Regions from separate parts of the Homo sapiens genome. Here region 2 is linked to region 1. Evidence: fine-mapped expression QTL. Tissue or cell type: whole blood. Region 1 holds a variant in brackets; the other region holds the start of a gene. All regions are shown on one strand. Distances are between the middles of the regions.

Evidence for each region. PIP is the estimated chance that this variant, and not a neighbour inherited with it, causes the effect.
Region 2: GGT7 starts here. The variant in region 1 is fine-mapped to the expression of GGT7 in whole blood (TOPMed, PIP above 0.99).

Annotation. Positions count from the first base shown.
Region 1 is chr20:35,050,963-35,059,066 of GRCh38, forward strand. TRPC4AP (transient receptor potential cation channel subfamily C member 4 associated protein) reads right to left here. Exons shown (of 19, transcript NM_015638.3): 4 at 6,552-6,609; 5 at 4,014-4,069. Among named protein-coding and RNA genes, the nearest start is that of TRPC4AP, 38 kb to the right of the region's middle. RefSeq lists an enhancer at 4,926-5,035. The variant T/G (reference allele first, on the strand shown) is at 4,875.
Region 2 is chr20:34,869,644-34,877,747 of GRCh38, forward strand. It overlaps GGT7 (gamma-glutamyltransferase 7), which reads right to left and starts at 3,213. Exons shown (of 15, transcript NM_178026.3): 1 at 3,004-3,213. The coding sequence starts at 3,172. It overlaps ACSS2 (acyl-CoA synthetase short chain family member 2), which reads left to right and starts at 6,969. Exons shown (of 18, transcript NM_018677.4): 1 at 6,969-7,180. The coding sequence starts at 7,003. RefSeq lists silencers at 3,095-3,384, 6,608-6,747, 6,828-7,257 and enhancers at 6,188-6,267, 6,288-6,337.

The DNA of each region.
Region 1 (8,104 bases):
TGCATTCCAGCATGGGGACAGAGTGAAACCCTATCTCTAAAAAGAAAGAAACTGCAGTACTGCTATAGCTTACACACACACACACACACACACACACACACACACACATATATATCCCACCCCTACTGCCTTAAGGCAACTAGAGCTTAGTGACTTTAATATTTCTTTTTTTTAGCCTCTAAGCTGAAAAAATTCCAAGGTTTACTGCGATAAACTTGACTTCTCCTTAAAAAGTATAATCAAGAGTGCAGACACACACAGTTTGGTAAATGGGAACCCCAAGCTAGGAGGCATTTCAGAATCAGTGAAATGAGATATGTTGCAACAAATTTAATTTTCTTTCTTTTAATTTTAGAGACAGGGTCTCACTCTGTTGCCCAGGCTGAGGCCATGACTATTCACAAGTACGAATATAGCTCACTACAGCCTCAATCACCTGGGCTCAAGCGATCCCCCCACCTCAGCCTCCTGAATCACTGGGACTACAGGCGTGCACCACCGCACCTGGCAAATTTAATTTTCAAAGTGAAGGCATCAATAAAGATGTGCCACGTATATAAATCTTTGACGATCACATTAAATAGGACACTAAAGAAAGCAATCTCCATCTGTATTAATACATTTCGGTTCTTCAGTCGTAGCACTGACACATTAAAAAAAAAAAAAAAAAAGGTTGTTATTCCCGAACTACATACAGTACCTACACTGGCTATGATATGTGAAACAGGACTGACTCTAGTTTTACTGACAAGCAAAAGTTCTGGAAGATCCAAAGAAACAGAACAAAAAGAGAACTAAATTTACACTTTCTCAAAGCTTAAAAATCTATCTCCAGGCTGTCAAATACACAACCCTGCTGCTCTAACTAGCTACCCTTGACTACCCACCTTTCTCCTCTCTTCAATTTATCAAAGTGCTACTCCTTTTACAGACTGACTAAAATGACTCCTCTTGGAAAACCTTCCCAAGTCAACAGTGGCCACCCAAAAGGCCATCACAATCCTTCCTTTCCTCTATATCACAAGTTCTTAACTGAGGCCAAAAAGCACTAAAACAATATATAAAAGGTTGTATGCAACTACATTTTTCGGGGGAGAGTTTTTTCCATGTAACATTCATCATAGGTTTTTTTTTGGTTTTTTTTTTTTTTTGGAGACAGGGTCTCACTCTATAGCCCAGGCTGAGTGAGTACACTGGCACAATCATGGCTCACCGCAGCCTTAACCTCTCAGGCTCAAGCAATCCTCCCACCTCAGCCTCCTGAGGAGCTGGGACTATGGTATATAACACCACGTCCAGCCAGTTTTTTATTTTTTGTAGAGACAGGTTCTATGTTGCCCAGGCTGGTCTTGAACTCCTGGACACACACAATTCTCCTGCCTCGGCCTATCAAAGTGTTGAGATTATAGGTGTGAGCCACTGCGCCCAGCCTAATCATAAGCTCTTGACCTAGTATCTGTCAAGTATCTAAATGAGGAGCTACAAACTAGCATCCAGTAGGCCAAGCTTTTTCTGGTGAGCAGTACTGTTTATTTTTTTATCTTTTATTTTTTGAGAGACCCTCACTCTGTCACCCACGCTGGAGTGCAGTGGTGCAATCTCAGCTCACTGCAACCTCTGCCTGCTGGGTTCAAGTGATTCTCTTGCCTCTCCTGAGTAGCTGGGACTATAGGCATGTACCACCACACCTGGCTAATTTTTGTGTTTTTAGTACAGACGGGGTTTCACCATGTTGGCCAGGCTGGTCTGGAACTCCTGACCTCAAGTGATCCACCCGCCTCAGCCTCCCAAATTGCTGGGATTACAGGTGATAGCCACCGTGCCCGGCCAACAGTACTTTTTAAACTTTTGAATTCAAACATCTTTAGACAGGACATACTTGCTCCAGTTTAGTCACAGTTTACACAAGTCCCCACTCCAACACCAGCAATTCCAAACATTTCCTGTTTTCTGCCTGATCCCTGGAGGCATTGGTGTTTGCAACCCTGAGAGCCCCAGGTTCTCTACATTAACATGGAATTCAGCCAGATAGCACATAATTGAACCATATCGCCCTATGTTCCTCAAATTTTTTAAAAAATTTTATTTAAAAATACTTTTAGTTGATATATAATAAAGGTACATAATTTCAGGGAGCATATAATTTAATACATTCGTATAATTTATAAAAATCAAATCAATGTACTTGGGATAGCCATCAGCTTAAATACTTGTCTTTTCTTTATGCTAAGAACCATTCAAATTCTCTTCTAGCTATTTTGAAATGTAAAACAGAACAGAATATTATAAACTAAGTCACCCTTACTGATTTATCTAACACTAGGTCTTATTTATCATCCCATATATTTGTACCCATTAATCAACTTCTCTTCATACATTTCATTTTTTTAACTTAACTGTTTTATTGGAATGTCACTGATTAACATTAGGTATCATGATTTTAAAACGGCCTCATAAAACTAGTGACTATATGGAGTTGCCAAAGATGGAGTCATTATATTATACACTGTCTTCTTCTATAAGGACAATTTCTTATTGGCCTTAGTTGCAAGAACTGTGCATTTCCTGAACAATTTGAAATTTTATCTTATAGATCTCCCTGTGCCTATCTCTGTCATTGGCTATACATGGCTACCGAGCACTTAAAAGGTGGCCAGGCCAAACTAAGATGTGCTCTGGGTGTTCAAACAAGAGGAAAGAAAAACAAAACACACACACACATTGGATTTTGAGAGCTCAATACGAAAAACAAGTAAATATCTCATTAATAATTAATTATACTGATTACATGTTAGAATGACAATATTCTTGATACACTGTGTTAAACAGAATTTATCATTAAAATTAACTTCACCACTTCTTCCTACTTTTTTCTTTAAAAAAATGTGGCTACAAGGAAATTTAAAATAACCCAAGTGGCTTGCATTATATTTCAATTGCACAGCACTATTATAGATGCTGAATTACGTAAGTGTTCAAACATATTCCCCTATTTGTGTTGGCTGCTAAGAAGCTTGAAGCCAAATTTGTGCCCATCCGTAATACAGATGATTTTATGGTCTTCATTTTTATATCAGCCCAATTCCTGGCTATACGTTATGTCCCCACCTTTATCTTCTTCTTTCTTACCTGCTTCTAAGTTCGTGATCTTGGTAGATTTTGCATACACCCACAAGATGTCAGAAATCTTATTTTGAATGAGGCAAGAAATGAAATGGAGCTAAATGTTTTTTTTTTTTTATTTCCACAGCATACAGGGTTCACATTTATAATAGCGCTCGTCTCATTCTGCCATGTATTATGATTCACAGTTTACACAGTTTATCATAAGTTTCTAAAAGACAGGTACTGTATCTTTTAAAAACTAACATTTATATATTGTTTTACAAAGTGTTTTCACATCTACTATCTCATTTCTCACAATAAATCTATGATGTTAATACAACTGCTAACTGCATTCTATTGGTAAGAAACTACGGCTTGGGAGGTGTACTAAGCCAAGGGCCAGAACACAAAATCAGGTCCTAACACTAAGTGCCATCCTCTTTTGTTTCTACCAGATTGCTTTCTTTATTCACCATTCTTCCTGGCTCAGTGGTCAACCTAGTAGAGTCCTGCTCAATATATGGGCGGGGCTTCTGGTTCTCATTTTGTTTTCTAACAAGGAAAATGAAGAAATAGGCATAATGGAGTTAAAATGAGTCTTAAAGGTCACAGTCTGCCAACACTTGTCACCTTTTGACAAGTGTCCAGTTTCTACTTGGACAGCTCTAAGGCCAAAGGAGTTTACTACCTGCTGCAGCAGTCCTGGCTCTTAACAACTGCTACAAAATTCTGCCTCCCCGTAATTTCTACCAGTTAGTCCTGATTTTCAGGCACACATAAAATAAGCCCGATTCCCCCACTGTCTGAAAGCAGCTCTTATGTCTGCCATTCTACTCGAATATTCCCATCTTAAACATTGCAGACCTGGTAGGGGAGATAAACAGAGCCCCAGTGGCAGGGGTACTTACACAGACACAGGTATTATACAGGATACTCAAGCAGTCCTTGGACATTTCATCACTTACTGAAAGTGAAAGGGTAATGACTGGTTATTTTTCTCAATGAAAAGATAGTACAACAGTTACCACATTTTTTTCAGCATAAGAACTGTTATAATCCCCTCCAAGATGATTATTTTTCCTTTAATATACTTCTTCCAGCCCCTGTCTACCAAAGGTTTTCATAGTGCCCATCAGAACCTACAAGCCCATTTGCATATTGCTTTTGGTTTGATACAGCAGCTGTTTTCTTATTATGCTCCACAGTCTTCATAATTTCAACCTGTTGTTGTGCCATCATTTAATAAAGCCATTTTCCCTTAATGTCTTGCTTAGGATATATCTAGGATTTGTTTTTTTTGTTTTTTGTGTTTTTTGGCTATTTAAGTAGACCACAAATGAACAACTTAATATATATGTGTATCCTTTTCATGTTTGTATTAAACTAGTTCCTCAAGATACATTTTCAAAAGTAGAACTACTAGAATCTAAAGTATAGGCATCTTTTTTTTGTTCATTTGTTTTGGTTTTTTAAATGAGGTCTTACTCTGTCACTCAGGGGCACAATCACAGCTCACTGTAGTCTCGAACTCCTAGGCTCAAGCAATTTTCCCTCCTCACCCTCCCGAGTGGCTAGGACTGCATGCGCGTGTACCACGCCTGGCTAAAAGTTAAAAGTATAAGCATCTCAATTGCTCTTGTTATAAATTTCCATTGAAAGTTCTACTGCAGCAAACAAAAATACCATTTTTATCAGACTCATTAACTGAGCATTTCTTTTTTTGTTGCTGTTATCTGTGTTGGGCAAATGGCTCTTAATGTCTGATCTAT[T/G]ACTAATTCTTATAAAGAAACTACTACTTCCCTGTGAGCAGGAACAGGAAAGTAGCATAAAAACGAAACTTAATTTTCATGAGCCCAAAACCAAAAGATGATGAAACTGAGTATGAACCATGGACAAAGTGCTTTATTTGGCACTTGCTTCTATTTTTTAAAATTGTTTCCATTCACTCCTAAGCTGCTAGGAATGCTAAAATGCTAGGTCTCCTTCTCAGATCCCAATGGGCAGCCCTGCCAAGCTAGCTTGACTAGATGGGTTGTCTCATAATCCTGAGACAACGCAGACGCTCTGCATCCCTTATCACCACCTTTCAACCTACTGGGGCTCTGTGATTGATTTATTTAACGACTTCAGAGCAGGGTGAAACACTGCTCTGCATGTCTCACTATATATCTCACTATTTCTAGATCCTCCATTTTTAAAAGGAATTGGGATTCACTCATTCATCAAGTATTGTTCAGCATCTACTCTAGAGCAGATACAGTGGTGAGGGAAAAAAAGTCTCAGCCTTCATGGAACCTATAAATCTAGTGGGAAGAAGAGAGACTAAACAAGTGCACCAACAAATAATTACAATATGCTACTTGCTATGAGGGTACATAGAGAACATGAAAGACCAAGTTAGAATACACAGCTGAGACATTAAAAATGAATATAAATCCTCTTAATAACCACTACTGCATGCACAAATGAGGCCTTATACAGTATGTCGTATTGGGGTAAAAAAAAAATCTTTTAAATTAAAAAAACGCAAAGTTGGTAGGAGGGCATTCACCAAACATTAACTGAAGTCATCTCTGGCTTTTAACACCAGAGTAAAGTGCATTCACTTTTTTATTTTAAATTAAATACCGAAGCTGGGTGCGGTGGCTCATGCCTGTAATCCCAGCACTTGGGAGGCTGAGGTGGGCAGATCACTTGAGGTCAGGAGTTCGAGACCAGCCTGGTCAACATGGTGAAACCCCATCTCTACTAAAAAAAAAAATACAAAAATTAGCCGGGTATGGTGGTGGGCGCCTGTAATCCCAGCTACTTGAGAGGGTGAGGCAGGAAAATCACTTGAGCTCAGGAGGCGGAGGTTGCAGTGAGCCAAGATCATGCCACTGCACTCCAGCCTGGGCAACAGAGCGAGAGACTGTCTCAAAAAAAAAAAAATTGAATACCTAAAAAGAATTATTTGTAACGTGTAAGTTATAAAAAATAATAATAGAATATTACCCATATATCTACCACCCAGCTTAAGAAATAGTGCATACCAAAACACTCTGACTTTTTACCATTCACACCCTGGTAATGCCTGAACTTTTTACAAAGAGCATGTATCACCTTTCTAAAAAAAATAGTTTAAAAAAAATAAAACAGAGTGATCTTACTCTCTCAGCTAGTTATATGTGAGAAAGAAGAATTTCCCAAGGAAACATAGAAGCTGGATCACAGGACTATCAAAAGTACAAAGATGCATTCTCTTAACCCAGATCTGAATTTCTACGCAGTACAGAATGAATAAAGACAGCTGCTTAGCTGGGGGAGGAGAGAGCAACCTGTAGCTAAATGTAAGACATGTCCTTACTATTAAGAGTTAGGAAGGGAAGGAAGAAGGCAGCTGCTGGGAACTGCCACCGTATCGGCAGGTTGGAAAACAAGGACCAGTAGCTAATAGGTATACTTACTTTTCAGTTTCTGTCCCCGGATAGAGATCGTAGGCCTCATAAGAATTTCTACAAGAAGCTATAAAAAAAATTAGATAAAATCTTCAAAATTAATTCAAAGTATAACTTATAAAATGATTTTGCCATAACCATTCATGGCCCATGTATCTGTCACAGTATTACAAGACCCTTTTGTTCCAGGAGGCAGTTAAGGTTCAGTAAGGCTCCTGACTGCAGCAAGTCAGGAGACCCAGGTTCTAGTCCCAGCTTGGCCACCTACTTGCCCTTCTCTGGCCTCAGCTTTCTCATTTTTGAAAAGAAGTATTTTAGATTAGGTAATCTCTGGGATCTAATGCGGCTTTAATTTCTGAAAAGCTGCAGAACATTATTACTATGATTCTTCTGTTTAAAGAACATTTGTAAGTTTATTTTAAAAGGACTCAAAAGATACACCATAAATTGTTAACACTGATTTCTACAGGTTTGGGGGTTATATGCATGTGTTTTTTATTTTACATACTTTAATACAATTTTGCACAAACTGTTTAAAATAAGCATGTATTTAAAAATTCATTCTACGGAGAGAAAGGATAGTTGATAAAAGGGTCAATCCATTAGAAAGATATAACAACTACAAATATGTATGTACCTAACAATAGAGCCCAAAAATACATGAAACAAAAGCTGGCAGAAATGAAGGAAACAGATAATTTAAAAATAAAAGTTGGACACGTTAATAACTCTGCTTTCAATAATAGACAACTAGGCAGACGAGCAAAGAAATAGAAGACTTGAACACAACGAACACATATATTCTAACAGACATCTACAGAACACTCCATGCAGCAAGAACAGAGTATACATTCTACTCAAGTGCACATGAAACATTCTCCAGGACAGATCAAATTTCAGGCCACTGAACAAGCCTCAATAAATTTAAAAGCACTTAAATCACATACAGTATGTTGTGTGGCCACAATGGAATGAAATTAAAATCAGAACGAAATTTGGGAAATTCATGAATTATATGGATAATTTTAAAAACCCATCCTAAATAATAATGGGCCAAAGAAGAAACCACAAGGGGAAGTATAAAGTATCCAAGAAGGATGAAAATACCAAAACTTATGATGTAGCTAATGGAGTGCTCAGAGGGAAATTTATAGCTGTAAATGCCTATATTAAAAGAAAATTCTTTTTTTTTTTTTTTTTTTTGAGACAGAGTCTTGCTTTGTCTCCCAGGCTGGAGTGCAATAGCCCTATCTCGGCTCACTGCAACCTCCGCCTCCTGGGTTCAAGCGATTCTCCTGCCTCAGCCTCAGAGTAGCAGGGATTACAGGTGCCTGCCACCACTCCTGGCTACTTTGTGTATTTTTAGTAGAAACGAGGTTTTGCCATGTTGGCCAGGCTGGTCTTGAACTCCTGACCTCAGGTGATCTGCCCACCTTGACCTCCCAAAGTGCTGGGATTACAGGCATGAGCCACCGCACCCGGCCAAAGAAAATTGTTTCTAATCGATAACCTAATCTTCTACCTTAAGACACTGGAAAAAGAGCAGACTAAACCCAAAGCAA
Region 2 (8,104 bases), 180 kb before region 1:
TAGGAATTTGGAAGATACTTAGGAGGGGTGCAGAGAGCACTTGATCACCATTTGGAAATGAGAAGAAAAGGAGGAGTCCAGCATGCCATTCATTATTGGGAGACTGGGTGACTGGCAGTGTCATTAATGGAGAATGGCAGTGGAGGAAGAGCAGGTGCATGGGGAAGGGATATGATGAGTTCAAAATAGAACATGCTATAGATGAGGCACTTGCAGGACATCTGGAGACACAGGCCTGGGAGAGAAAGGAACACAAGGGCTTGGAGCTCAGAAGAAAGAAAGTATTTCCCAACCTTGGAATGATCACTGTCTAGCTCTCTTTCCCACAGAGCCTGATGTGGGGTGCCTGGCACTTGGGTTTAGGGAATGGCAGGCTAGAGGCTAGCTGGGCACAACCAAGGTCCTGGCTAAGAGGATGGTGCTGTGCCACTAGATGGTACCACCAGGTTGAGAACACAGGAGGCCATGTCAGCCTGTAGTCTGGTCCAGGTGAACCGAGGAAGCCTTGGGGCTTGGAAGTAGGATTGGGAGATATGGCATTCAAATGATTACACTGAAATGATGGCAACACACAAACCTGACACATAAATTTGGCATAAGGTATAAACTCCCAGAAGCTCAGATGACTAGGATCTCTGCTGGATTTCCATACAGGGGTGAGGGCAGAGCCTGTATTGAACTTCCCAAAATACTCCCTGAGGTTTTGGAACTTGCTCTCTCCTACCATTCTTTCATCCTCTCTCCTACCATTCTTTCATCCTGAGATCTTCTCTCTCATGCATTTATTCATTCAACAATTATTGAGTGCCCAATAAATAAATAGAGATGAGGGTTTTTTTTGTTGTTGTTGTTTGTTTGTTTTTTTGAGACAGAGTCTCACTCTGTTGCCCAGGCTGGAGTGCAATGGCGCGATCTTCGCTCACTGCAACCTCTGCCTCAGCCTCCTGAGTAGCTGGGGTTACAGACACCTGCCACCAGGCCTGGCTAATTTTTTTTTTTTGTATTTTTAGTAGAGATGGGGTTTTGTCATGTTGGCCAGGCTGTTTTTGAACTCCTGACCTCAGGTGATCCACCCGCCTCAGCATCCCAAAGTGCTGGGATTACAGGTGTGAGCCACCACACCGGCCAGTGTATTTTGTTTTGTTTTTTGTTTTTTGTTTCTTTTTGAGACTGAGTCTCACTCTGTCACCCAGGCTGGAGTGCAGTGGAGTGATCTCGGCTCACTGTAACCTCTGCCTCCCCAGTTCGAGTGATTCTCCTGCCTCAGCCTCCCGAGTAGCTAGGATTACAGGCACCCACCACCATGCCCAGCTAATTTTTGTATTTTTAGTAGAGATGGGGTTTCACCATGTTGGCCAGGCAGGTCTTGAACTCCTGACCTCAAGTGATCCACCCACCTCAGGCATGAGCCACCGCGCCCGGCCTATGGATAAGGTCTTGATGCTGGAGAAAGGAGAGTGAACAAAACAATCATGATCCCTGCCCTCATGGGGCTTACAGACAGGGAGTAATCAGATAATTGCACAAATAAATAATCATAGATTTTGGTAAATGCTAAGACATTTACAGAGGGCCAGAAGAAAACATGTCAGGCAGTTCCAATCTCTAGGTCAAGAGAGACAGGCATTCTCTGTTGAGCTGGAAGAGGAAACTAAGGCCCAGGACAGGGTAGGTGTGCCTGTTGTCGCTTGGTGAGTCAGGGCTGTATTAGGACCAGAAGTCTCACTCCTGACTACTGAATAAAAGGCCTAGCTTCAGGCTGATATCCATCATGACACATCTTCCCACTCCTCTCCCTGCTACCTCCTGATTCCACTCCCTTTGGAAAATAAGTTTTGATCCGCAGCCCTGACATTTGACGCCCATAAACCTCTAAACTCCATCTTCATTATCTCCTCACCCCCACCCCATACAGAGTGCAGTCCAGTCAGGTTGGCAAGGGCTGCTGGTCAGGGCCAGATGACCAGAAAGTGTAGAGGAGGAGAGAATTTGGGGCTTTCAGGCTGGGAGCAGCTAGGGAAGGGCCAAGCCGGAAAAGCAGCATCTGCCAGGCTGGTAAGAGACAAGGCTCAAGTGCAGGCACTGCGAGGAAGCGAGAGTGAGGTAGAAGGATGCTCTAATGCCAGGAAGTGACGTGCAGGGACAGAGGGATGGGGGATGAAGGATGAAGAATGGAGGGGAGGATGAAGCTGGGCCACATGGCTAGGAGGAAGAGCAGCAGGGAAGGAATGCACAGAGAGCTCTTTGCCCCCAGGTCTCTTCCAATCCCTGTCTCCTCCTTCTCTTACCCCCACTTCTCACAATTCCAGCAGAGGGCTGAGGGGAACACAGTAAAATTCTGGAGACTGCTTCCTAGGGAGCAGAGTACCTTACTAATACCCCGGCCAGATCCATGGCTCAGGGAGGGGTGGGGTAATCCACAGGAGAGTGAAGGCGTTCTAGTCCCCAAGGACTTTTGAGAGGTCATGCAGTCCATGCCTCCGTCTCCCAACACCCAACAGAGGGGAATCATATTCTCTTTACCCCTCCCTAGACATGAAGAGATTCTCCGCTTCTCCCAGACCCTCTGCTTCTCACAATCCCTGGCTGTGGGGAACTTCTCTTAAGGCACAGATTGGATCCCTCTTGCTGCAGTCTCTGACTTGGTTTCTCCTATCCTGTCCTCTGTGGCTAGAGAAAGCCCTCTTCTGGGTGATCACAGCGGTTCCTTAGGATCTCCCCTTCAACATTCCTTCATCGTTAGTTGGTTCTTCCCAGAAGGTAAGCCCAATCCCTTCTACTGCAGTCCCTAGCATCCTCTCCGTTGTCGCATCCTACGCCTCCAAGGCAGAAATGCACCCCCTTCCTCACCAAATAATTAACAGAGACAAGGGAGAAGAAGGGAGAGATCCAAGAAGATGGGGATGAATTAAGGAGATGGAGCTGGAGGTGGATGCTTGACACAGAAGAAGGAAGACCGGGGACTTCCCAAGGCAGGGCAGGGACGGGGTCAGCGGGCCTCACCGGTGTCGGGGTCTCCCAGAAAGGCGTCCTCGTCCTTGCGGCCCCTCAGCGGGGCCGCGGGCGCCGGCTCGTCCTCGGGCAGCCGCGGGAAGCTGGTGATGCTCATGTAGTCCACTGGCGAGTAGGCGCCCAGGGCGCTCTCCTGGCTGGCCTCGTTCTCCGCCGCCATCCTCGCCCGCGCCCCCCAGCAGCGCAGCGCCTGCCGGAAGTGGCTGCGGCGGGGGAGTGGGAGGGCGGAGGGCGGGGCCTGATCTTCGCGACAGCCGGGAGGGGGCGCCTCTCCCAGCCCTCGGCCGTGTCCCGGTCTGACTCGCCCCCGTCTGCTCAGCGCTATCAGCCTGCAGCTGGCACACAGGTGCGTGTAGATGGACAGCCAGGAAGGCAGCGCAGGGTCGAGGGGAGAGCGCGGGGCAAGCGAGACTTCAGTGGCTCTGCACTTTACGCAGCTCAGGGACCAAACCCCTTCCTCCTTCCAGCCTGAATACAGCTAGTGTCCTCCTCAAATCCCAGGCTTCCTTTTCGGGCCCCAGACCCTTTCACTGACCGCAAATCCCTCTCGACCCCAGATCCTGTCTCTGACCCCAAACTCCTCGGACCCCAGACCCCTCCTTGAATTCCGAGATCCTCCTCCTCCGATTTTAGACTCCTCCTCCGACCTTAGACCTCTTTTTCGACTTCAGACTCTGTCTTCACCCCCAAACCCTTTTGAAAACCCCAGCCCATGCTTCATCTCCAGGCCTCTTTGACTGCAGACGCCTCTTTGGACAACAGATCCCTCCTCTGACCTCAGATCCCTTCCCGCACCCCGACACTTCTGACTCCTCTTTCAACCGCATTCTCAAACTTTAGTGTGTGTTAGGATCTTTGAAAGCGGATCCCCAGATTCCACTCCAGAGATCATGATTCAGTAGGCTGGGATGAGGTCCTTGGAACCTGAATATTTACCATCATTTTAAGAGTTTTTGATGTGGTTCTGGAAAGGACACTTTGAGAAAGAAGGAGTGGTGGTAGTGATGGTAGGGCAGGAGTGGGGCAAGGTGGGGAATAGGTCTCCATATTCTGGATGTCTGGGTTCTATTCTGCCACCGCTCAAACACTGTGTAATCTTGGGCAAGACAATTAGTCTCTCTATCAGTTTCCCCATCTGTGAAATGGAAAGAATAATAGTACCCATTTTAGAGGGTTGTCATGAGGATTAAGTAACAGAATGGAAAGCGATTAGTATAGGGCTTGGCACCTACTCAATAAATGGCATCATCATCATCATCATCATTGCCTTAATCTGGTAGATTCATTCCCTCCAAACTCATCCATCCTCTCTCCACTCCAAAATTCCAACCACACTACAGCTTGTACTACTTCTCCATATCCAAGGATGAGGGAGGTTCCTTCTTTTACGAGGTCTCTGTTCCAAACTTTCATTGTGAAGTCCACAGGAAGAGAGGGGGGCTGGTGAAGCCTCTATACACACATCCTTTCTCTTCCCAACCCCAGACCAGTCTCAGGGATGGCCTGAAGTGCTTGAAAAATCTACTATATACACAGCAGCTGCAGTAGCAACTATAGACAGGAGGGGGAAGCAGTGTGTCGGGAACAGCTCTGGGGTTTGGGTGTAGGACTTGGGAGAGAGGATAGGAAGGAGAGGGCTACTCAGAGCTGTGTGGTAAGAGTGCCCAGGGAGGGTAACAGTCTATCACCAAAAAGTGTACCCATTGTCTGTGCCTTTCCCCACCCCAGAGAGTTCTTATCTCCTCAGTGATGTTTGTAGGGTCTATTACACTACCCTGAGGTCTAATCCCTCTGGTGGGACCCTTCCCCACTTGATGAGGTCTGCACCTTCTCAGTGATGTCCACTCCCACAGTGTAGTTGGCAGCTCCTCACTGGAGTTTGAGTCCTCTGGTAGGGTCCACGTCTCCTTAGTAAAGTCTATATCCTCTGTATCTCTTAGGGGAAATCCATGTCTCCTCACTAGGGTAAGTGCCCTTCAAAGCCATTCATGTCCTATTAGCAGGGCCCAGGGCCCTTCAGTCAGATCTGAGAACCCCCAGCAACATCTGTGCTCCCTTAGTGGAGTCCATGTACTGTCAGTGAAGTGTGTGTCCCTTCGGTGCAGTGAATATCTCCTTTATGAAAGTATCTGACCCCTTGGTGGGGTCTATGTCCACCCCAAGAGGTCTGTACTCCTTCAGTGGGCCCTCAGATTCCCGCCCTCCTTGGGATTGGGCAGACTCTCGGTCTCCCATAGAGAGATTTTTTTTCAGCTTAGGGTGTGCAAGGTTTACAGTCAGCTGGGCAAAGTGCAGGGAAGTAGCTGGGAAGGGAGGCTGGGCTAGATGGGGTCACAAGGCCTGTGTAGGCTTCAGGAGGTGGGAGCTGCCCGCTTCAGGCCTCAGAATCACTCTTGGAGTTAGATATTTAAGAATCCTTCCTGCCTTGACAGCCAGTCTGTGAAATGATGGTGAGGTGGGCACTTCTTTGTGGTGAGTGCAGGTGAGAGATGGAGGAGGGTCCTGCCTGACTTCTTTCTGGGGTGGAGGGGCTAGAGAGAAGCTAGAGGTAATTAAGCCCAGGTTGTGGTGGTGGTGGTGGGGGTTTCCCTTGGTGGAGTAAAGAGATTGTGAAGGAAAGAAGAGAATGTGGGCCAGGTGTGGTGGCTCACGCCTGTAATCCTAGCACTTTGGGAGCCCAAGGCGGGCAGATCACCTGAGGTCAGGAGTTCAAGACCAGCCTGGACAACATGGTGAAATCCCATCTCTACTAAAAATACAAAAATTAGCTGGGTGTGGTGGTGTGCACCTGTAATTCCAGCTACTCGGGAGGCTGAGGCAGGAGAATTGCTTGAATCCAGGAGGCAGAGGTTGCAGTCAGCCGAGATTGTGCCATTGCACTCCAGCCTGGGCGACAGAGCGAGAGACTCCATCTCAAAACAAAAACAACAACAAAAAAAGAGAATGTGAATGATTTTTCCTATTTGCACAGACTTTGATATTTTACAAGCCTTAGCTTCAAGCCTGACGAGGAAGTAAAACCAAATCTGGAGTCAAAGAACCTAGCTTTGGCCCTAACTTGGTCGTTATTTGCTCTCTGACTGTGCACCAGTTCCTTCCCTTTCCTGGGTTTGCCATTTGTGCAATTAGGAGGTGGGCTTATTACAAAAAACCTGAAGGTGTCTCCTAGTCTTCACTTATTGAGTCTTGTACTTTAGATCTGGATGGAGATTTGTGAAGGCAAGGAGATTGAAGACATGTCCTCATAAGAGGGAGAAAATCTGAGCTGGTTCCAGGGTGAGCAGAGAGGAGGTGCTGTCGCCAGAGCATGCCCTCAAGGTCATGGGAGAAGTTTTTCCGGAGGACGAGAATGTGGGTGTGGCTCAGAGAGGGGGGACCTGGAGGGAAGGGTGTCACCTGGAAGGAACTGGTGATAGTCAGGACTGTGCAATCAGATCACGGGGCGGCTCCGCGATGGACCTTACTCAACTCCTCTCCTTAGTCCATCCCTTTCCCTTTCGATCCTTGCCTTAACCCAACCCCTTATCTGTCACTCCAAGACCCCACCCCACTCTGGTCACTCCATGGCTCTGCCTCCTCTCCTGTCACAACCAGCCGGGTTACTCCCCATCACTCCATGGGCCCACCTCCTCTCCTGTCCCGCCTGGCCCCGCCCCTCCCTTGGCACTCCACGGTTCCACCCTCTCCCTTGTCACACCCGGCCCCGCCCCTTCTGCTTTCACTCGACGGCGTCACTCCTTCCGGCAAGTCAGCTCCACCCCTATCCCTCGACTTTTCCTTATAGTATTTCTGTCCTTGCCAACCTCGATCCCTCCCCAACCAGACACGGCCCCGCCCCCTCTGGCACCGCCCACCCGCCAGACTAAGCCACTCCCCCACTCACCAGGCCCCGCCCCTCTACGGAGGCCCCGCCTCTAGTTCGGCCTGTTTTCTCAGTCCCGGCACCCGCCGCGACCGCAAAGGCGGCCGCGGTTCTAGGAACTTGACGTGATGGGGCTTCCTGAGGAGCGGGTCCGGAGCGGCAGCGGGAGCCGGGGCCAGGAGGAAGCTGGAGCCGGAGGCCGGGCGCGGAGTTGGTCTCCGCCGCCCGAGGTCAGCCGCTCCGCGCACGTCCCCTCGCTGCAGCGCTACCGCGAGCTGCACCGGCGCTCCGTGGAGGAGCCGCGGGGTGAGGCCCGGCCCGGGCGGGCCTGGGGTGTCAGTGAGGAGAAGAGTGGGGGCTCCCTGGGGGAGTCGGGGGCTCCCTTGGGAAGCTGAGGGGTGGGTGAGGAGATGGAGGTTCTGTGAAGGAAGAATTGCGGTTCTTTGAAAATGGAAAAGGGATTCCGGGAGGAGACGAGGGTTCCATGGGAGCTGGGGAGTTCCCTGCAGACTTGGAGGGTCCGTGGTGGAGATGCGGGTTTTTGCGAGGAGACGCGGGATTCCGTGAGGGAAGAAGTGAGGTTCCTTGAGATTGGGACGGGGAGGTCGGCCAAGAGAGTGAAAGTTTCATGGGAAGAGAAGGGGAGTTCCTGAGGCGAAAAGAGGGTCTCTAAGGGGCGACGGGAGCCTTGAAGGGAGGAGGGCCACGAATAGAACTTTCTTTGCTTCCCTTTCACACCAGCTCAGCCACTGCCTCCTGAGACCCTTAACCTGTGAACTGTTGAGGGCAATAACGGGTCTGGTTCCCATCTTGGGGTCCTCAGATTAGTAATGGAGTCCCCGATCTATTTTTAGTATATCGGACATCCTAATGGAAATTACGCGGTATAAGACTGAACGAGTTACTACGATGTCAAGTTGTTTTATTTATTTTTTTAACTTGGGCTGGGATTGTATTAGTAATAGTTCAGAAGTTCTGATAGATGGTTCCATGTCTGTTAAAATGTATGAGGAAAATCGGCCAGGAGCAGTGGCTCACGCCTGTAATCCCAGCACTTTGGGAGGCCGAGGCGGGCGGATCACTTGAGGTCAGGAGTTCGAGACCAGCCTGGCCAACATGGTGAAACCCCCGTCTCCACTAAAAATACAAAAATTAGCCGGGTGTGGTGGCGGGCACCTGTAATCCCAGCTACTCGAGAGGCTGAGACAGGAGAATTGCTTGAACCCAGGA